5 separate regions of the Homo sapiens genome follow, and all the other regions are reported to be linked to region 3. The links are microRNA targets in miRTarBase. Many come from high-throughput screens and were not tested one by one. Region 3 holds a microRNA gene; each other region holds the end of a gene's coding sequence.
The links. Region 3 holds the annotated microRNA hsa-miR-6887-3p (UCCCCUCCACUUUCCUCCUAG, at 2,896-2,916, shown strand). A microRNA usually pairs through its seed, bases 2 to 8, with sites in the 3' UTR of a target mRNA and lowers its output. Matches are read on the target gene's strand: a 7mer-m8 pairs with bases 2 to 8, a 7mer-A1 pairs with bases 2 to 7 and ends in A, and an 8mer does both.

Region 1 (4,101 bases), not on the chromosome of region 3:
ATCTTTATTTTTGATTAATTTGTTCTGATTTTTTGGTTTGTTTTTTAAGGAACTGTAATGAACAAATGTCAGGATATCCAATGCCAAATAAAGATGTTGTATTTATTTAGTCCACGTGTAGCTTTCTGACCAGGTGGGCACCATTACTAACCCCAGGACTACCAGCCTCACCACCGCCGCCCTCACTTGCTCAGGAAACCCGCCTGCCAGCCTAGCCCAGCTTTGTGTTTTTCTTTCCTCCCCATTCCCACCACAGGTTGCTCACCAAGGTGAAGGGTTCCTAGCCGCTGGGATTGAAGACATTGGCCTGGCCTCGTTCTCTCTTCTTGCCCTTGGCCCAGCTGGGACCAAACTCTGATCAGTATTAGGGGTAGAGTGAGGTAGACACTGGACTCCCTGTCCCCACCACCCCTGCCCCACCCAGGGCCAACATGACTAAGCTCTCTCATGACCCACCTCAGCTCAGCCCCCCAGCCCCTGCCAGCTCCACACTATCTCTTAGCTGAGTTTTTGCAAATAAAATGTGTTGTGTATCTTGCCGACTTGGGTTGGGCAGCCTCAAAGGAAGCACTCAGGTATGGTGGGCAGGATCACCAGAAAGCTTTTATTTTAACCCAGGGCCAGGGAGGCCGAAGCTTCAATCCTGCTGCTTGGTTCGGGAGGCCTCTGCATTGGCCCGGAGCACAGCCCCTGGGGATGGATACGGCCGCTGCTGGAAGAGGGGCCCAGCTGCTGTGGTGTCAGCGCCAGTCTTGGCCTCATTCCGCTTGGGGAGTCCTGTTGACCACGTGCCCCTGCCGGTGAAAGAGTCAGGGGATGGGGATGGGTGATGTGGCGGACACAGCCCACCTGGTCCCAATGAGGAATGGAGGAAGGAGGCCGGAGGATGGTGTCCACGTACTGAGTCAAGAGGGGTTGTCACTTACCGGGGGGCGTCTGAGTATGAGCTAGGGTCCATGGGGTCTAACTCTTCATCCTTTCGGCTTACTGCTGTGGAAGTGGCAGGGCAAAGTCTTCAATAGAGGCACCAGGATCCCCTGATCACTGAGCCCCACCCCACAAGAAGAAATGAAGCCCCTGGCTGCCATGTACCACAGCACCCTCCTCTAGCCCCAGGTCCAGGCATCTTTTTGAGGGAAGGCTTCCTCACGCAGTGCACCCTGCACCTTGTTGGTCTCACCGAGCCCCATTCTGCCCAGCTTACCCTTCTTGCTCTTGGGATAGGGAGCCAGCTCCTCCCGGCGATGGTGGCGCCGTTCTTTGCCCTCTTCCCGGTCTGCCTTGTCATACCCGCGGTCCCGATCCCGTTCCCTGTCTCGCTCTCTCTCTCTGTCTACCTTGTCATAGCCACGCTCTCGATCCCTGTCAGACTTGTCGTGGCCCCGGTCTGACTTGTCGTGGCCCCTGTCTAGTTTCTCATGGCTGCGGTCCGACTTGTCATGGCCCCTGTCCGACTTGTCATGGCTCCGGTCCAACTTTTCTTCAGCATCTGGGGACACAAGTCTTGAAGTGACCTCTTGCCACCCCAGGACCCAGCAGCCTCTGCCTTCAACAACCTCCCTTGCCTGAGGCTGGGCCCGCCTGGTCTCACCTGCCCCTCTGATCCACTATCATTCTACTTGGCCTCTCCGTGAGAACTGCTAAGATCACTCAAGGCACGCTTGTACCTGCCAACTCACCTGCATTACTGCTTCTGAGCTTCTTGGCCGATTTGGTAACCACGGAGTTGGGGTCATGTGGGGAGAGCCAGGATACAAGGTCTGTGTCTGCATTCCAGTAGTAAGGGAGCCCGCTGTGGGGCCGCAGGAAAGAAGTGTCAGCACAGATGTCCTTGCCTTGGATCCTCAACTCTTGTCTCCCCAGTCTCTGCCTATACCTGCCCCATGTCAGGACCCCACAGGCAGGATCCCCAGAATCTCTTCTCCTGAAGAGAAAACACTGTCAGCTGGGCGTGGTGGCTCATGCCTGTAATCCCAGCACTTTGGGAGGCCGAGGCAGGCGGATCACCTGAGGTCAGGAGTTCGGGACCAGCCTGACCAATATGATGAAACCCCATCTCTACAAAAAATACAAAAATTAGCTGGGTGTGGTGGTGTGCACCTGTAATCCCAGCTACCTGGGAGGCTGAGACAGGAGAATCGCTTGAACCCACGAGGCGGAGGTTGCCATAAGCCGAGATCACACCATTGCACTCCAGCCCGGGCTACAAGAGTGAAACTCCGTTTCAAAAAAGAGAGAAAAGACAGTCTTCCAACCCCAGAGGAGCCAGGCCCCAGCAGGCAGCAACTTGAGTCCTGCAGATACCTAATGCCAACACCCTCCACCCGAGGCTCCCTCCCTTGTGTCCCCCTAAACCTCACAACCAAGGTCAGCACAGGAAGGGTGAAGCCAGAAGTTAGCTCCCCCTCACCCAGGCTCACCAGGAAGGGTCGAACACCTTGTACCAGCTTGGTGGTAGGCCCTCCAACCTGGTGGCCTCGTAGTCCACAGGATCATCGTCATAGTCCTCGGCAATGATCTCTTCCTCTGGTTCTGGTAGAACAAGGTGGGGATGAGGAGAGCAGATAAGGACCAGGGGACCTCATCCTACATGTAGAGCCTAGAGACACGCACTCACATTCACACAAGCCACACATAAAAGACACGTGTGTGTGTGTGCCGGGAAGAATATGAAGTATCTTTCACATTCCAAATCCAACTCTCTATATTAGGAGGTTTACAAAAAAAGGTTACCTAAATCTGTGTCTGGGTTCAGATGATGAGTTCTACTGTTAGCCAAAGCTATCTGGTTTCAGAGTTGATAGGGATTCATCAAAAAATTTACTCATCTTGGCCAGGCGTGATGGCTCATGCCTGTAATCCCAGCACTTTAGGAGGCCAAAGTGGGTGGATCACGAGGTCAGGAGTTCAAGACCAGCCTGGCCAAGATGGTGAAAACCCGTCTGTGAGACTAGCCTGGTCAACATAGTGAGACCCCTGTCTCTACAAAAAAAAAAAATTAGCTGGGCACAGTGGCACACGTCTGTAGTCCCAACTACTCAGGAGGCTGAGGCAGGAGGCTCATTTGAGCCCAGGACTTTGAGCTTGCAGTGAGCTATTATCGTGCCACTGCACTCCAGCCTGGGCAACAGAGTGAGACCCTGTCTCTAAACAAATAATAAATAATATATATACCATAGGCACAGGTCATTCAATAGGCTTAAAAGAAAATCCAGCCTGGCCAACATGGTGAAACCCCATCTCTACTAAAAAATACAAAAATTAGCCAGGCACAGTGGAGCACGCCTGTGGTCCTAGCTACTCGGGAGGCTGAGGCAGGAGAATCGCTTGAACCCGGGAGGCAGAGGTTGCAGTGGGCCAAGACTGCACCACTGCACTCCAGCCTAGGTGACAGAGCGAGACTCTCTCAAAAAAAAAAAAAAAAAAAAAAAAAAAAAGTAAATCAATGATCATTGCCAGTTTTATTTTTTTGAGATGGAGTCTTTCTCTGTTGCCCAGGCTGGAGTGCAGTGGCATGATCTCGGCTCACTGCAAGCTCCGCCTTCCGGGTTCACACCATTCTCCTGCCTCAGCCTCCCGAGTAGCTGGGACTACAGGCATCTGGCACCACGCCCGGCTAAGTTTTTTGTATTTTTATTAGAGATGGGGTTTCACCCTGTTAGCCAGAATGGTCTCGATCTCCTGACCTCGTGATCCGTCCACCTCCGCCTCCCAAAGCGCTGAGATTACAGGCATGAGGCACCCTGCCCGGCCTGGGATCATTGACAATTTTATTAACCACAAGGTCTATACCTTGCACACAGTAGGCTTGTAATAGATGTCAGTTATCAATAAGGAGAAGATATATTTTCCAGTGCCTGGCACACTATAGCCCCAAATAGATGCCAGTTTTTAGTATTACTGATAATAAGGTGTGATTTGCAGCCAGAGCACAGTAGGCCTAAATGATAGATCCTCACTGCAACTACGCTTGGCACACAGGAGACAGCAGTAGAGGTTAGCAGTACTTCCTATTAGATACTATGTCATCACCCCCATAGAGTAATCCATGGGATTTAACTTGGCATACAGTAGGCCCCAAATAGGCATTAGGTGGTCAGT
Region 2 (4,100 bases), not on the chromosome of region 3:
CTCAGGAAACCATGTCCAAAACCCTAGCAGCGGTACAGCATGCTGTCTCCAACCCTTATCCCCAGGTTTAAGGGTGGTTTATGGCCATACGTGGAGGTTTTTTGTTGTTGTTTTTGAGACTGAGTTTCACTCTTGTTGCCCAGGCTGGAGTGCAATGGCACCATCTCGGCTCACTGCAACCTCCACCTCCTGGTTCAAGCGATTCTCAGGCCTCAGCTTCCCAAGTAGTTGGGATTACAGGCGCCTGCCACCACACCTGGCTAATTTTGTATTTTTAGTAGAGATGGGGTTTCTCCATGTTGGTCAGGCTGGTCTCAAACTCCCGACCTCAAGTGATCTGCCCGCCTTGGCCTCCCAAAGTGCTGGGATTACAGGCGTGAGCCACCGCACCCGGCAGAGTTTTATAATGAAAAATTAACTAATATTCTAGTATGAAGTGAGGAGGATACTGAACAGGATGTGGCTAAAGCCAACCTGGGACAGCCATGGGGTGGCTTGGTTTCTTCACTCCAGTGTTGTCCCTACCATTTCGCAGCATTGATTTAGGAGGCTCTGGGACAAAAGAGAAGCCAAAGAGCAGTTTTCCCAGTTCACTCACTCTGGCAAAATCAGGAAAAAAAAGTCTGCTTTTGACATCAAATTCCACTAATTTGGGGCAGCGTTGGGTGAGGAAAGTATTGTGAAGACAGGCTTCTTGGAGTAGGGGCAGCCACAATTCAGTAGACACTCTAGGCTCGGAGGCTGCCACTGTAGTTGCCAAGCTCAGGTTGGGTGGTTCTGTGCTGTATGGATGGAATAGGACCTGGGCTGGTCATCTTCATGTCGTTTCCTCTCTGTATCAATGGAAGTTCAACCCGCCCCTACCTCTTCAGATAGTTGTAGGCCACTTTTCTCTTGTAACTTTGGAAAACAAAAGAGGAGAAATAAGTATCATACCATATGCGTGTCTCCAAAGTGGATGTGGTTGCCTCAAGGCAGGTGGCAGGCAGGGGTGACCTGCTGGCCCTCAGATCAATGGTCGTGGCAGGTCTGAGAGCTGTCCCACTGGCCAGACTTCTCTCCAGCAGCAAAGCCAGCCTGGGGCTTGCATGTTGATCCTGAGCAAGCTTAACGGGGTGAAGCTGGGCTTTCTCCCCCCTGTGACTGGAGTGCATGTTGACACCAGCACTTTTTCTGCACATGTATCTTCAATCCAACAAGGCCGTTTTTTTAATGCTGAGTAACAGGCCACCAAGCGGCTACTGCGTTATATCTTCTCAGCAACTGGCCGCAGTCTCTTCTGCACCATTTTCTACACCAGACCTGCTTGGCACCACAGGGAGCTCTTTTCCTGCCCTGCACAATGACATTCCAACCACCACCAGCCAGACATTACAGCCAACCTTGCTGATTGTCACAAGCAGGACCTTGGGGCCACTGGCACTGTCAGATAGTAAGCCATTTCTTGGGTAGAGGAGGAAACTCCTCTCCACAAATCCACTTGGGCCTGTGCAAATGGCACTTGAAAGAGTCCCCATGCACTTGGAGTCCATGAGCCAATGGGATATGCAAAGACGCTTAAACATTTCAGGGCTGGTTTCTCTGTTCATATCCAATTCTGGTGCTTAGGAACAGGGACCCATGCTGATGCCCAAGGGCAAAAAGCCCCACTTCCTTTAAGGAAGTGAACAGGCCTGACCCTGATGCCCAATAACGGGCAACCCTAGGCTTTTTGTTTTTCTTGCTTTTATTCCTTTTTGTTGTTGGCCTTGTGCTGCGTTTGTTTACAAAAGATGTATTTTGTTTAACCAAATATTAAAAATGGAAAACTCCATATATGTCTCCTTGTCTGCCTGAATTCTATAATTGTGTAAAGAAAAATAAACTTTAGTATGACGCTGTTTTAAAAGGAGTTCATTGCCAGCGTAAGTCATCTTTTAGAGACATATCATTCTTTGATTAACTCTTTCACCTGAGAAATCCAGACAAAATAGTCACTGAAATGGGATTTGGTTCAAAAGATGTCTCTAAGACATTTTTCAGTCTATTTTAATTTATAAAAACTAATCTTGACAATTTGAAGAATCCACCTAAGTACAAGTTTGTACCACACTGGTGACTAGTGTTTTTCCCTAGTTAACAAGTGAAAGATCATGTATACCCAGCGGGCCTGGGCCCAGCCCCACCATCCCGAGCGCACAGCAGCAGTGTTCTGTAGCTGGACTGCCTGGATTTGAATCCAGGTCTAGCACTTAACTCTGCAGCCTTGAGCAATTACCTTTCTGTGGCTGTTTCCTCTTCTGTAAAATGGGAACAGTACCACCTAGATTGTAGTGTTGGTTGATCTGATAAACACACAAAAGGCTTACTCTGGCTGGGCGTGGTGGGTGACGCCTATAATCCCAGCACTTTGAGGGGCCAGAGGCGGGTGGATGGCTAGAACTCAGGAGTTCAAGACTATCTGGGGCAACAAGGCGAAACCCTGACTCTACCAAAAATAAAAGAAACTAGCTGGGCACGGTGGCGTGTACCTGTAGTCTTAGCTACCCAGGAGGCCAAGTTGGAGGGGAGGTAAGAGGTTGCAGTGAACCCAAACGACACCACTGTACTCCAGTGAGACCTGATCTCAGGCAAAAAAAAAAAAAAAAAAATTCTGTCCCCCTCCCCTATTCCCCAGAAATCAGTACTATGTTATTCCCTACAAATACTTTATAATTACACAGTGTCATTATAGACTAAAGAAGTACATAGACCCAATCCTTTGTTTTAGGCTGATGGATCTCAAAGTGACTGCCTAAATTCAGGGCAAAGATTGCTATGAAGTACTTGGCTAAAAATGAATTTTCACTTGGAAACAATTTGGGCCTATGGCTGTTAAGATGGAGGTGCTGCTGGTTTAGGTGAGAAAATGTGAGGGGCAGTACATGTCTCTGACGTGGTCTCATTTCAAGGTACTTAGGATGACACTTTCAGTTGGAATCATTTTTAATATTTAAATACAAAAAGTGAGCACTGACTTCTCTTTTTTTAAACACACACACAGGTCTAACAGCCAAAATGTGCAGAGGAAATGAGCTCCTGCTGTCTTCCATAGTCCCCATTCTGTGGCTGAAGCTGCAGCCTGCCTCCCTCCTCTCATACATAGGGATTCATAGTGGCCACTTTACACTACAGGTGTAATGCATTTTGTCTGTTTCACATTGTGTGCATGTCCTGCCCCAACAACTCCATTCTTTAAAAAAAAAAAAAAAAAACAGTCGTTAATGGTCAGGGGCACATCCCTCCCACTGGCATCGGTTCCTACCCCACAAGGGGAAAGTGAGATCTTCCAGTTAGGAGCAATTTGGTGAAAGGAGTCGGGTGACCAGAGCTGGAATAACCATCTGCATGGCTGCACTCTGGTATCAGAGTGGAGACAGAAGTAAGGATAGTGTGGAGGGCACAGTTGCAAGTTGAGTCTTTCCATGAGACAATGTGGGGATAATTCTCCCCACCAGGTTTAGATAGATCAATGTGCCAAAGTTAAAAAAAAAAAAAAATCCAAATTATCAGCAGTTCAAACACTTGAATTTCAAACTTATCCCACTGAGACAGCTCAAACAGCAATAACAATCTAGATCTTTCCAGGAAGTGAGGGTAGAGCCCCTGGCATTCCTCCTGAGAGCCCTGTGTTAGGTCCTAGAAGTATCTGGAAAAGAAAAGGAGGGGTGTAAGGCATCATACAGGCCTAGAGAGCTTATTCTCACCATACCTGATGGGGCCAACGTCTACAAAAATAATACTGAAAGCACAGTCAGACAACTAAAAGAGCATGGGCCCGATCCCAATCCCCACCCACACATTAACTGTTGGTCAACTCAGGTGCTACAACAGGAGCCCTCAACCCCTGGGCTGTGGACTGGCACTGGCCCATGGCCTGTTAGGAGCTGAGCCACACAGCAGTAGATCAGCAGCAGGCAAGTGAGAGAAGCTTCATCTGTGTTTACTGCTGTTCACCATCGCTCACATTACTGCCTGAGCTCCACCTCCTGTCAGATCAGCAGCAGTGTTAGATTCTCATAGGAACACAAACCCTTGTGAACAGTGCATGCGAGGGATCTAGGTTGCAAGCTCCTTATGAA
Region 3 (4,117 bases):
TTGCAGAGACGAGGTCTCACTGTGTTGCCCAAGCTGGTCTCAAACTCCTGGCTGAGTTTGATCCTCCCACCTCAGCCTTCCAAAGTGCTGGGATTACAGGCATGAGCCACACTGCACTGGCCTTGATTGACTATTAAACAGAAATAACGGAAGCTAGAGAAGATGATGAAATGACACCTTCAAAGCACTGAAAGAAGATAACTGCCCTGCCAGTTCTCTAAAAACTTCAAGTAGAAGGCTCAGCTCAGTGCGACTGCATCTTTAACTTCCAAACACTTTTCCCTTTTTTCTTTTCTTTTTTTTTTTTCGGAGACAGAGTCTCGCTCTGTTGCCCAGGCTGGAGTGCAGTGGCATGATCTCGGCTCACTGCAACCTCCACCTCCCAGGTTCAAGCGACTCTCCTGCCTCAGCCTCCCAAGTAGCTGGCATTACAGGCGTGTGCTGCCATGCCTGGCTAACTTTTGTATTTTTAGAAGAGACAAGGTTTCACCATATTGGCCAGGCTGGTCTCGAACTCCTGACCTCAAGTGATCCTCCTGCCTCGGCCTTCCAAAGTTTTGGGATTACAGGCCTAAGCCACTGTGCCCAGCCCGCTTTTTACTTTTTCACTGCAGCCTTGACCTCCCAGGCTCAAGAGATCCTTCCACGTCAGCCTCCCAAAGCTCTGGGATTACAGGCACACTTTTTGTCCATTACATAGGGCAAGACCAGTATTCCCTGCAGGGTAGTGATCTAAAATTACATTTTCAATAAAGTCTATTTAAGTGTATAATAGTGAGTCATTTTCAATGATGTGCAAACACCAGACCAGGTGGGTGTGGACATGGTGGAAGCGGGAGGATGGGCTTTGAGCATGATTGGACTTGGGGAAACAGGAATCTGGGAACTGAAACCATCTGTCGTCTTGACCAGAAAAGTCCCCCGCTGCTGCAGGAGGCATGGATTAACCACGTGTCTGGAAACATGAGACCAAATAGTGGCTAAAAACCTCCTAGATTAGAACCCATTTCAGGTGGCAGAATGCTGGCGTGACTCGGAGGTGTGGGGCTGAGTGGGCGAGTCCACATTTCCTCGTTGGGATATGAGGGGATGAGGTGGCTGCTCAGTGACAGGACCCCTGTCCCGCAGGAGACCCTTTCCCAAGGCCCCTGAAACTCCCCAGGCCCTGCCCAAAGGCTTGGCTGAGGCCGGCATCACCATCTCCCCTCCTTCCCCTCTTCTCCCACTAGGCTTTCCTGTCCTGGACGCCAATGACCTAGAAGGTGAGTCAGACTGGACTCTCACCCGTCACACCCCCAAATTCTCCCCTGGGTGGGGAAGGCCTGCATCCTGGCTGTAATCCTGGATTCATGATCTTTTTTCTTTCCTTGCAGATAAAAACAGTCCTTTCTACTATGGTGAGAGCCCGTGCCCCCTTTCCCCTCCCCACAACCCCACATACTGCTTGGTGCCAAGGGTTCCCATACAGGGTTGGGGCCTGACGTGAGCATCACAGGACAAAGATACGAAGGGACTAGGATGGGGTTACTGAATATGCCACACAGTGGATTAAAGGAACTAGAGGCAGCAACCTGGCCTTTGGGAAGGTTCTATTCCAGCAAGATAGACACACGCAGGAGGTGAGGACAGTTTGCAAGAAGCCATTGGTTGGTTCAGATCAACTGCTGGGAGAAGTGTTGACTTGAGAAAACTTCCTGGAGGTGGTGAGCTATTGGATCAAAACCCTCATCTGGCCTCCAGGTTCCAATGACCTGCTCCCTACTCCCCGCTCTGCCCTCACCTCTCCACGCTCCTCATTCCTTCTGCTCCAAGCCTCTCAGACACAGCAGACATACTGCCAGCCTCAGACCTCTGCACCTGCTGGTTCCTCTGCCTGGAACACTTCCTTCCACAGAACCACATGGCTCCCTCCCTTCCCTCTGCTCAAATGCAGCCCCCTGAGAGGCCTTCCCTGACAACTCCCTCTAAAAGAGCTGCCATCTGACTTTTTTTTTGTTTTAGAGACAGCGTCTCACACTGTTGCCCAAGCTGGAGTGCTGTGGTGTAATCATAGCTCACTGCAGCCTCAAACTCCTGGTCTCAAGCGATCCTCCTGCCTCAGCCTCCTGAATAGCTGGGACTGCAGGCATACACCACCATGCCTGGCTAATTTTTGTATACTTTGTAGAGATGGGTTCTCACTATGTTGCTCAAGCTGGTCTAGAACTCCTGAACTCCTGAAGTCCCAAAGCACTGGGATTATATTAGGTTGGTTCAAAAGTAATTGTGGTTTTTGCAACTGCTTTTAATGGCAAAAATGCAATTTTTTTTTTTTGAGGCAGAATTTTGCTCTTTCACCCAGAGTGTGACTGGCTGGAGTGCAATGGTGCAATCTTGGCTCACTGCAACCTCTGCCTCCCGGGTTCAAATGATTCTCCAGCCTCAGCCTGCTGAGTAGCTGGGATTACAGGCGCCTACCACCATGCCTGGCTAATTTTTGTATTTTTAGTAAAGACGGGGTTTCACCATGTTGGCCAGGCTGGTCTGGAACTCCTGACCTCAGGTGATCCGCCCACCTTGGCCTCCCAAAGTGCTGGGATATCAGGCGTGAGCCACCATGTCTAGCCAAAAACGCAATCACTTTTGCTCCAACCTAATAGGTGTCAGCCACTATGCCCAGCCCGCCCTCTGACTTTCCATCTCCCACCCCACTTATTTTTCTTCAAACCACTTATCTCTGCCTGACCCTGCACGACAGATCGTGTTTGCTGGTGTGTGAACCAGAATGTGAGCACCTGGGATTTTGTCTGTTTTCTTATGGCGGTGTCCCCAGCACCCTGTGCATCCTAGGTGCTCCATATATATTTGTCAAGAGAATGGGGGGACAGATGGAGAGGACACAGGCTGGCACTGAGGTCCCCTCCACTTTCCTCCTAGACTGGCACAGCCTCCAGGTTGGCGGGCTCATCTGCGCTGGGGTTCTGTGCGCCATGGGCATCATCATCGTCATGAGTGAGTGGAGGAGCTCGGGGGAGCAGGCGGGCCGGGGCTGGGGCTCCCCTCCCCTGACCACTCAGCTCTCCCCAACAGGTGCAAAATGCAAATGCAAGTTTGGCCAGAAGTCCGGGTAAGATACTGTTCCGGCATGCCCGCCTCAGGCTGACTGGACGCTTTTCAGGGTGAAAGGGCTAACTCTCCCAGCAGGAGAGGCCTCGGGGCTCTGCCCTTTAGAGTTCCTGCCGCTAAGATTTCCAGGTTTATTGTTTCTAGCTGGTAATCCCCAGGGGGCCCCAAATCCTGAAATGCTTTGGCCCCTGGGATTGCACAACCCCCCAAATGGAAAGGCAGCCAGGAAGACATGTCTGGGCAGGCTAAGAACCCTCTATCCGGAGGGAGAGGGCAAATGGGGGCGGACACCAATCTCACCACTTTTGTCTCCTTAGTCACCATCCAGGGGAGACTCCACCTCTCATCACCCCAGGTAAGATGGGGCAGCATGGGGCTCAGGGGAACACGGAAGTGGTGTGTGTGTGTGTGTGTATGTGTGTGTTTGCACACTGGAAAGAAAAGAACTCAATCCACCCTCACAAACGGACCCCATCACTTCCCGCAGGCTCAGCCCAAAGCTGATGAGGACAGACCAGCTGAAATTGGGTGGAGGACCGTTCTCTGTCCCCAGGTCCTGTCTCTGCACAGAAACTTGAACTCCAGGATGGAATTCTTCCTCCTCTGCTGGGACTCCTTTGCATGGCAGGGCCTCATCTCACCTCTCGCAAGAGGGTCTCTTTGTTCAATTTTTTTTAATCTAAAATGATTGTGCCTCTGCCCAAGCAGCCTGGAGACTTCCTATGTGTGCATTGGGGTGGGGCTTGGGGCACCATGAGAAGGTTGGCGTGCCCTGGAGGCTGACACAGAGGCTGGCACTGAGCCTGCTTGTTGGGAAAAGCCCACAGGCCTGTTCCCTTGTGGCTTGGGACATGGCACAGGCCCGCCCTCTGCCTCCTCAGCCATGGGAACCTCATATGCAATTTGGGATTTACTAGTAGCCAAAAGGAATGAAAGAGAGCTCTAACCAGATGGAACACTGGAACATTCCAGTGGACCCTGGACCATTCCAGGAAAACTGGGACATAGGATC
Region 4 (4,096 bases), not on the chromosome of region 3:
TGCTCCATTTGCCTTTATGAAGCATATCACCCTTCCTGCTGGCCAGGCCGCTTCTAGATACGCTCCTACAAGTAAAACTTGGCTTTCTGTTGGTTGTCTGGTACTACTATGCCAATAGACTCCCTATTCTTTAGTCCTTTTAAAAAATTAAACAGATGCAAGAAATATGTAAGTATTAAGACTGTTTATGTTGTGGTGTTTCTGCAACTGACTGCAAACACGTGTGTATTTTTTCCCAGCCATACATCCTGGCGGAGGAGCTGCGTCGGGAGCTGCCCCCGGATCAGGCCCAGTACTGCATCAAGAGGATGCCCGCCTACTCGGGCCCAGGCAGTGTGCCTGGTGCACTGGATTACGCTGCGTTCTCTTCCGCACTCTACGGGGAGAGCGATCTGTGATGCTGAGCTTCTGTAATCACTCATCCCATCAGAATGCAATAAAAGCGGAAGTCACAGTTTGTTTCCTGGAAACTTTGACAAGCTTTATTAAGTTGAGAGAGAGAGAGGGGAAAAAAAAAAGCCTTTCGTAGTTCAGTAATTGCCAGCAATATAACACGGCTAAAATGAAGTTTTTACAGTATATGACATAGTGCGCTTCATAAATAGGTTTATTTCTGAGTTTTTAGCAAAATGTAATGAAATATCAGGTTGATTTCTTTGATTAAACAGAACAAATTACTTGAGTAATAGGAAATTAGGAGGATCTAGGGACAGAAGGAAAGTGAAAAATGTGAAAATACAAAATACCCAAGATTTAAGACCGGGGGGAAAAAACCACAAATTGGTAAATAAAGGTTTGCTATTTGTAAAAAATTTCATTTATCTCTAATATGCTTATGTGATTGCCCCTAGGGGAGTATATTTGGGATTCTAATGTTTTATTTTCATGCTTATCCAAAGATTACTATTGTATCTTCAAATGAATTTAATATTGTGAGATGGAACTGCCGGGGATTAAAAAGACTACCCAAAAGATTTTTGGCACTTACAATTTTTAAAATAGTTTATGTCATCTCTTCATTATTTAGGGCTGGATGGTCAACTCAGTCAGTGATTTTTTGATGCTTCTCTTATCCTCCAGAATAGAGACCTAAGGACACGTGGAAGTCAGTTTAATTGCCAGAGAGAAGGATGCAATCACTAGGTAAAATGAGGTTTTTAGGATTATTTATTGATTCCAGGTTCCCATGCTTTTTGTTAGAGCTTATTAGTACAGGTTCTCAAGAGATGACCACATAAAAGTGCTCTGTTTATAAATAAGCAGGTTTCTGTAGTACTGACTGGTTCATCACAAGGCAAGTCAGAAACCAGTATCCTTCTAGCTCTCCAGTCAGGACTTCCTTATGCCTCTAGTTTTATGACCGGTTAAGGAGAAGCCAGAGTTAGAGTAGGAGAGGACTAATTCTCAGCAGCAGTGGAGGTGAGTTCTTTCTTTTGCGGAAGCTTTACATATGTTTTGTGTAGTAGGAATAACTAGATATTTTAGCTAGTGTGCGGTGTGTGTTCACCCCTGGGATTGGACAGTGTATCCTAACAAGTCCCATGTCTGGTTCTGTGTCTAAAGGCCTGCTCCATGACACAGGATGCTACATGCACTCCTGCTAGCACATCTTGATCTGTTGAATGTTCATTCTTTCTTTTTGCTCATACTGCTGTAGGCTATAATTCCCCCCTGTTTTTCCATCTTGTTGACAGCTTGTAGAGAATAAAGCAGGAATTCTTTTTATATCTGAGTCCTTAATGATCAGGAAATGGATTACAAACAAACAAAAACAGTTGCAAACAGCAATTAAAGCATTACTAGAGAAGCAGTAACATGTCTGTTACCTACAGTCTGTTTGCTCAGATTTTTATAGATTTCCACCAACAGCTGGAAATGTAATATTTCCATTCCAAGCTGTCTGACAGCTTGACTCTTCTTCCTACACTGGGCCATTTAGAACCTTCAACCTTTATGAATTTCACTTAATTTGCTTCATTATTAAGTAATTGGTAGTTTCCAGATTCCTGAAATATTTGAATCCTTGAGTTTAATGCCAAACACTTTTGGGGTGGTTTAGATGAACTCTGACTCTATTTTATTTCAAGTAGGTGCTATATCCCGGCCATAAACCCCTATAGAAAAGCCAGAAAGTTGTGCTTCCTTTGAGGCTATTAGGGGGCTCTGTGGTGTTTTAGGATGGGTGTGGGTAACTCATCTACCTAAACTTTTAATTTCTTTACAACATTCAGCAAGAGAGGGGGTCAGTAGTCTCTATCTGCTAATAAATGAAGAAAGGAAGTAAACTCTGAAAAATAATAAACATGTTTATACTCTCATTTTAGGTATTATTTTTATTTCTGAAGCTGGATGCTCAAAAATTAAAACGTTTATAAGTTTCTAAATTAAACTTAATTTATAAAAGAAAAAAGAATCCCTATTTTTGTTATTTCAAAAAATAACCATTACTTTGGTTAACTACAAACAAACTTCCTCACTTAAAGGTTCCATGAGAATTAAAAACAGTCATTGGGTTAGTATTTGCCTCCCTTAAAGAATTAGAGACAGGCTTACTGGGTAGAGGGTGAACATAAGATGGAGAATTAACAATGAACCATTTAGAAGTGAATGATGGATGGCCCGGGGCATGGTGGCACACACCTGTAATCCCAGTACTTTGAGAGGCCAAGGTGGGCGGATCACTTGAGATCAGGAGTTCAAGACCAGCCTGGCCAACATGGCAAAAACCCATGTCTACTAAAAATACAAAAATTAGCCGGGTTTGGTTGCATGCCTGTAATCCCAGCTACTCAGCAGCTAAGGCAGGAGAATCACTTGAACCCAAGAGGTGGAGATTGCAGTGAGCCGAGATGGAGCCATTGCACTACCAGCCTGGGCAACAAGAGTGAAACTCCATCTCAAAAAAAAAAAAAAAAAAAAAAAAATCAGTGATGAATAGATTAGGAAGGAATTTTTAACCAAGAGATCACTTCAGAATCCTCAGTAAATATTTTCTAAAATGTATGCATACTCAGCCCTAATCCCAGAGTCTCAAGCTGTGAAGGTCTAGGTAAGACTTGGACATCTGCAGTTTTTTAAAACTCCATGGAATTTCTAATAACCCCCCATGAGAACCCGTGGATTAGAGGCAAAGGAAAGGTCATTAAGAATCAAGAGTCTAAAACGGCCAAGCGTGGTGGCTCACGCCTGTAATCCCAGCATGTTGGGAGGCCAAGGCAGGCAGATCATGAGGTCAAGAGATCGAGACCATCCTGGCCAACATGGTGAAACCCCGTCTCTACTGAAAATTCAAAAATTAGCCGGATTTGATGGTGTGCGTCTGTAGTCCCAGCTACTCGGGAGGCTGAGGCAGGAGAATCGTTTGAACCTGGGAGGTGGAGTTTGCAGTGAGCTGAGATAGTGCCATTGCACTCCAGCCTGGGCAACAGAGCAAGACTCCATCTCAAAAAAAAAAAAAAAGAAAAAAAGTCTAATAAAATGATTAGAGAAGACCTTACTGGCAAGGTTAATAGTTGAGCAATACAAATGGCCAGGCAAACCCTTGTGCCATCTGGTTGGTAATACAGAAATGCTTGACATAACTGAGTTTTAAATTAGAGCATTTGGCTTGGTATTCATTCCTGCTGTATACCAGATTCATCTATGTTCATGGAAATAAGCTGGAAATGAGCTCTTTACAGGCTTCATATGAAAGGAAACAAATCTAAGTGATACGGAGTCAGAAACATGTATTTTCAGAAGTTGCTAGTTGTTACCAGGCTGACAAAGATTCACCCACAGCTTCCCTGGATTATTTGACAAGAAGACACTGAGTTCCCACTGTGTCCTTGAGCTCTTTCGGGTTCCCTGGAGCCTACACAATAATTATACTGCTCTGAGACATTTTCATATTTCAGATGGAGTCAGCAGAGAAGACAGCGTCGTTTTTCCTTTTTAGATTCATTAATTAATAACTCAATCCTTAAGCAACTGACAGACCGTTATTCTTTTTAAGGTGCTAGGAGTTGCGATTTGTCAGTGACCCCTGGCCATGAATTCCCTCTGGGATTTAAGTCTTTTAGGAGTTACCTCCCCAGCAGTGCAGACCTCCTTGTTG
Region 5 (4,097 bases), not on the chromosome of region 3:
TTCACACCTGCCATCTCACTGTCAGCCAGTGGTAAATACATAGCTGACTTTAGCCTTTTTGACCAAGTTGTGAAAGTGGCCTCTCCTAGTGGCCTCCGTGACAGCACTGTACGCTACGGAGACCCTGAAAAGCTCAAGTTGGAGGAGTCATTAAGGGAGCAAGCTGAGAAGGAGGGCAGTGCCCTTAGTGTGCGCATCAGCAATGTCTGATGACCTGTTCCCACTCCCCCATTCCTCTGGTCTCTTTTCCTCTCTTCCAATGCCCTGGTAAGGAATACTACCCGGGTTTACTGGAGATCCCCCGAAGCACCCATCCTCCACTCCCTCTTCTTTAACCCAGTGGCCTGTTGGTAGCTTAGGCCAACTGGAGTCCAGGTTCGCCTCCCACTGTCCCCTTTCCACTTCCCCAGCTTCTGCCCCAATACACATACCTCCCTTAAGCCAGGATGGGGGAAAGAGTGGGATTAGGCTGAAGTGGCTTAGAAGGCCTCAGCCATGCTTGGATACTCACATTAGGAGGACCATGTGGTTGGAAGGATAGACTGCCCCCTACCTCCCACCACCACCATGAAGTTTGGTGACTTGAGGCTGGAGCTCCCTCTGTTACCTTTCCATCTAGCAAGTTCCCAAAGGCAAGACTCTCTCTGATGGTCACTTTGTGGTCTGTGCTTTCAGAAATACAGGAATCTGATATCAACATATCCTAGGGTTTCTACCAATCTCTGTTGAAAGAAGCCAGGGTTTGCCACTGTGAAGCTTGATTTCTGCTGGTGACTTCTGACCATAAGCTAGAACCATGGTCGCCACTGTTTTCCCTCTGTAGTTTCTCAAGTGAACACTCTCAGGATACCCAGTTCCCTCATAGCCTCTGTTCTCAGAGAATTGGAGTTGGCCCAAGAAACATAAACATATAACCACCCATATCTATCCTGGATTCTGAACTCTTCAATTTGGAGTGACTAACACAAGTTGTTATCTAAACCTTTAAACCTATCTTCCAGGCAGCCCAGAGAAGATCTGTTTCCCTGTGTCCTGTGAATGGAAGGACCCAAGCCAATATGTTCCTTTGAAAAGAGTCCAGTACCCAGGCCCCATGGAAAGGTCTGAAAATAATATTCCAGATTACACTGTACCTGGCTTCTCTTCTTCCTTTCCTGCTCAGCCTAGATCCTTCTTCCTTAACCCCAACTCTTTGGGAGAAGGGAGGGAAAATGCAAGGGCCTTCCTCTCTTAACACGGATGCTCAAGTAAAACTAGATTCACAGGGCACAGATTCCCCAGAAAGTTAACACAATCCCACCATGAGGGATGGGTAAATTCTCAGATTTCCAAACTGCTGTACAGAGCCTCTGAGAATTGGTGATGCTTTGTTAAGGTTTGGGCAGGAGCAGAACTCTGTGGCTGGCAGCCACTATTCTCAGTTACACCTCCCAGTGCCCTTCTGAAAAGTGCCAGCTATTTCATTAGGCAATGCTGGAAGGAAATGAAATTATACCTTCTGATCAAATAACCATGGCTTCCCTCAGCCATTCCTGAGACTTGGTATAAAATGAAGAAATCAGTGTCATCTCTACTCTCCTCTGCCATGAGGCCATTTTCAGACAAGTTAAAAAGTAGACTTTAAGAGATCAAACTCAGCCTATTCCTTGTTCCCTGGTGGGGTCTGTGGTAAGGGTCAGGGAAGGGCATATAGGCACCAGAGCTTTATCCAAAGCCCCAAATCCCTAGAGTGCTTTCTGGTCTCACTTTGGTACCAAGGAAGCCTCACATAGTGGTACTGCATAGTCCCACTATAAGTCAAGTTGCAGTTTAAGGTGGTCTCAGCCAATTGTTACAAGCTACAGAATATATACATGCATCTATGTACAGAGCCTTGCAGAGAAACACAAAATTTTGAGGCTAGACCCATGATCACCACCAACTATAATTGCACAAGGTCTTGTTATATTGATCTCTCCTCGAACTCAACTAACTATATCTTGAAAACAAAGACCCTTCGGTGTCCATCTACAGTAAACCCCACCATTACCTTCTAGTTGGCATAAAAACAAGAACCACAAAAACTTGAAAAATCTGAAACAGAGAACAGAAGGCCAAGAGCCAGCTTCTGCGTTCTCAACTTTATTCAACATTAGACTTACCTTATTTCTTTCAGTGTGTAGGGACAAGATGTACTGCTGTGTGTGTGTGTGTGTGTGTGTGTGTGTGTGTGTGTGTGTGTGTGTGTGTCTATACCTTCCTATCCATTGCCAAGTTAACCTCCATCTGGTTTATTTGGCCATGCTATGCTTTCTTCCCATTCCCCTGCTGTCTATTCTAAGCCCCCAGACTCAAGCCTCTAGACTCTTGGATGAAACAGTGAGAAGAAAACATTTTCTGACTTACCCTTTTGGAATCTCCTCCATTATTACCCAGGCTTTGCTTTAAGTTGCACTTTAAATCACACTGTCCTATTAATGCGATCTGGCATCTTCTCCCACAAGCCCCCTACAGGGAACAACTACCCCCTACCTTAACTCTAAATGGTTCTTTAGACTATAGTCTGTCTCCTCTGACCTGAAATCCTCTTTTAGGCAATAGGCCGAGCTTTAGAAGCAGCCAGGTCTGGTGAGAAATGGGCCCCCATACCAACTGTGGACTTGGAATATCAGCAGAGTAGTAGGCACAGTTGTAAAAAGGGGAGATTTCGGTAGGCACAGGTGTAAAAAGGGGAGATTTCAGAAGACGGGCGAAACAACTGATGGGGGAAGATACCTGGGGTGAGAAGATGAGAAAGAAATGATGCTGAGGGACCTAGTGAAATCAATGAAACTCTTGAGTCTTGCTTAGGCTCGCAAACAAGAAGTGGGGAGGCTTGGGAAATTAGGATATGACATATATGAAAGGTTTATCTAAGAAGAAAGAAACAGAGATAATATATATATAGAAAGATGTATATAGATGTATATATGCCCAAATATATTGAATGTACAGAAAGGAAATATTCAGAGACTTTAGCATTGGGGGCAGATATCTTGGCCTGGTTATGGGGTAGGACACCCAGATTTTCAGACTTACAATCAGTGGTCCTGGTTTCAACATGGAAGTGAGATAGCTGATGAAGGATTTCAAGTCTGGAAATGGGAAAGGGAGGGGTAGAAGTTCCTTTTCAGAAATAAAGAGGCATTCATGAAGGCTTTTGTTGAATCCTATGCTACTGATAGGACCAGGAAGAGAGGAACTCGGAGGACAATAGGGAGGGGAAGTCTTGGAAAATCTACCACTTACACTGTGTGTCCCCATCCCCAGCAGCGTCCTGCCACTGTAGCGCCTTTTTAAAATAAATAAAATAAAATAAAGCACCATTTTGTTTCCCTTTCATGAAGTACACTGTATTTCCGTCTTCCACAGGGGTGGGAGCTGCTATTGCTCTAGCCCCTGAAATCAAACTCAGGAGCTGAACACTTTGGTGTATGGGAGGCACTAATGGGAAGCCTCAACCCTGGAATCCAAATGCCAGGACTAATAGCTGTTAGGCTGAAGATCTCCCAAGGTCAAGGCCCAGCCTTTTGTGTGGCTGCAAGCAGCCCAAAGAGAAAGCCATGGATTCCAGAAGAGTTCCAATCCTGGCATTTGGGCATGGAGGGTGATGCTTTGGTTTTGATGCTTCTGAATGAAAATGAGGAGTGGGGTTACCAGCTGCTCTAGGGGATGGTGAAGTTCCATGAGAGGCTTCCGAAATCTCTGCAATGTGCTTCACCCCATTATTCCCCCAACCCCTGTCAGCCTAATAAAATCATCCAGTAGTTTCCCTATAAGGTCTGAGCAGAGAAAGAAAGCCAGTTATACTATTGCTACAAGTCCAGGACACTGTGCCCTCTCCATGGCTGCTGCCCTGGTCCTTTATTCTTGCTAGCTAACCTAGTTCACTTGTACAGTAACACACTACCTTTGCTGGAAAGTTAGCATGGGTCTCCAGGCTCAGTAATGGCCAACTCTACTGATGCAGAAGTATTTAGGGATGTTTTTTCCATTCATTGCACTAAAGACTAAACCAGGTCAAATTTATCTAGGAAAAAAAAGGTGTGTAAGATTTGTTTTGTTTTTGTCTGTTAAAA

Region 1: miRTarBase lists SLC35A2 as a target of hsa-miR-6887-3p. The part of its 3' UTR that is shown has no 7-base or 8-base seed match.
Region 2: the mRNA of TOMM22 is a reported target of hsa-miR-6887-3p. Seed matches in the 3' UTR shown: 7mer-m8 at 2,638-2,644.
Region 4: the mRNA of ACTN2 is a reported target of hsa-miR-6887-3p. Seed matches in the 3' UTR shown: 7mer-A1 at 503-509.
Region 5: miRTarBase lists KCNJ10 as a target of hsa-miR-6887-3p. Seed matches in the 3' UTR shown: 7mer-m8 at 3,129-3,135 and 8mer at 3,236-3,243.

Annotation. Positions count from the first base shown.
Region 1 is chrX:48,899,621-48,903,721 of GRCh38, reverse strand. It overlaps SLC35A2 (solute carrier family 35 member A2), which reads left to right. Exons shown (of 5, transcript NM_005660.3): 5 at 257-539. The coding sequence ends at 284. It overlaps PQBP1 (polyglutamine binding protein 1), which reads right to left. Exons shown (of 7, transcript NM_001032382.2): 3 at 2,421-2,532; 4 at 1,680-1,792; 5 at 1,205-1,489; 6 at 927-990; 7 at 579-794. The coding sequence ends at 638. Among named protein-coding and RNA genes, the nearest start is that of PQBP1, 3.7 kb to the right of the region's middle.
Region 2 is chr22:38,683,334-38,687,433 of GRCh38, reverse strand. It overlaps TOMM22 (translocase of outer mitochondrial membrane 22), which reads right to left. Exons shown (of 4, transcript NM_020243.5): 4 at 2,013-3,667. The coding sequence ends at 3,593. JOSD1 (Josephin domain containing 1) reads left to right here. Exons shown (of 5, transcript NM_001360236.2): 5 at 1-1,891. Among named protein-coding and RNA genes, the nearest start is that of TOMM22, 3.4 kb to the right of the region's middle.
Region 3 is chr19:35,119,849-35,123,965 of GRCh38, forward strand. It overlaps MIR6887 (microRNA 6887), which reads left to right and starts at 2,852; the gene lies at 2,852-2,916. It overlaps FXYD3 (FXYD domain containing ion transport regulator 3), which reads left to right. Exons shown (of 9, transcript NM_005971.4): 4 at 1,230-1,262; 5 at 1,374-1,397; 6 at 2,917-2,991; 7 at 3,070-3,106; 8 at 3,423-3,460; 9 at 3,593-4,117. The coding sequence ends at 3,609. RefSeq lists enhancers at 2,409-3,298, 3,299-4,117.
Region 4 is chr1:236,762,222-236,766,317 of GRCh38, forward strand. It overlaps ACTN2 (actinin alpha 2), which reads left to right. Exons shown (of 21, transcript NM_001103.4): 21 at 240-2,410. The coding sequence ends at 398. Among named protein-coding and RNA genes, the nearest start is that of MTR, 31 kb to the right of the region's middle.
Region 5 is chr1:160,037,506-160,041,602 of GRCh38, reverse strand. It overlaps KCNJ10 (potassium inwardly rectifying channel subfamily J member 10), which reads left to right. Exons shown (of 2, transcript NM_002241.5): 2 at 1-4,097. The coding sequence ends at 210. Among named protein-coding and RNA genes, the nearest start is that of PIGM, 7.6 kb to the right of the region's middle.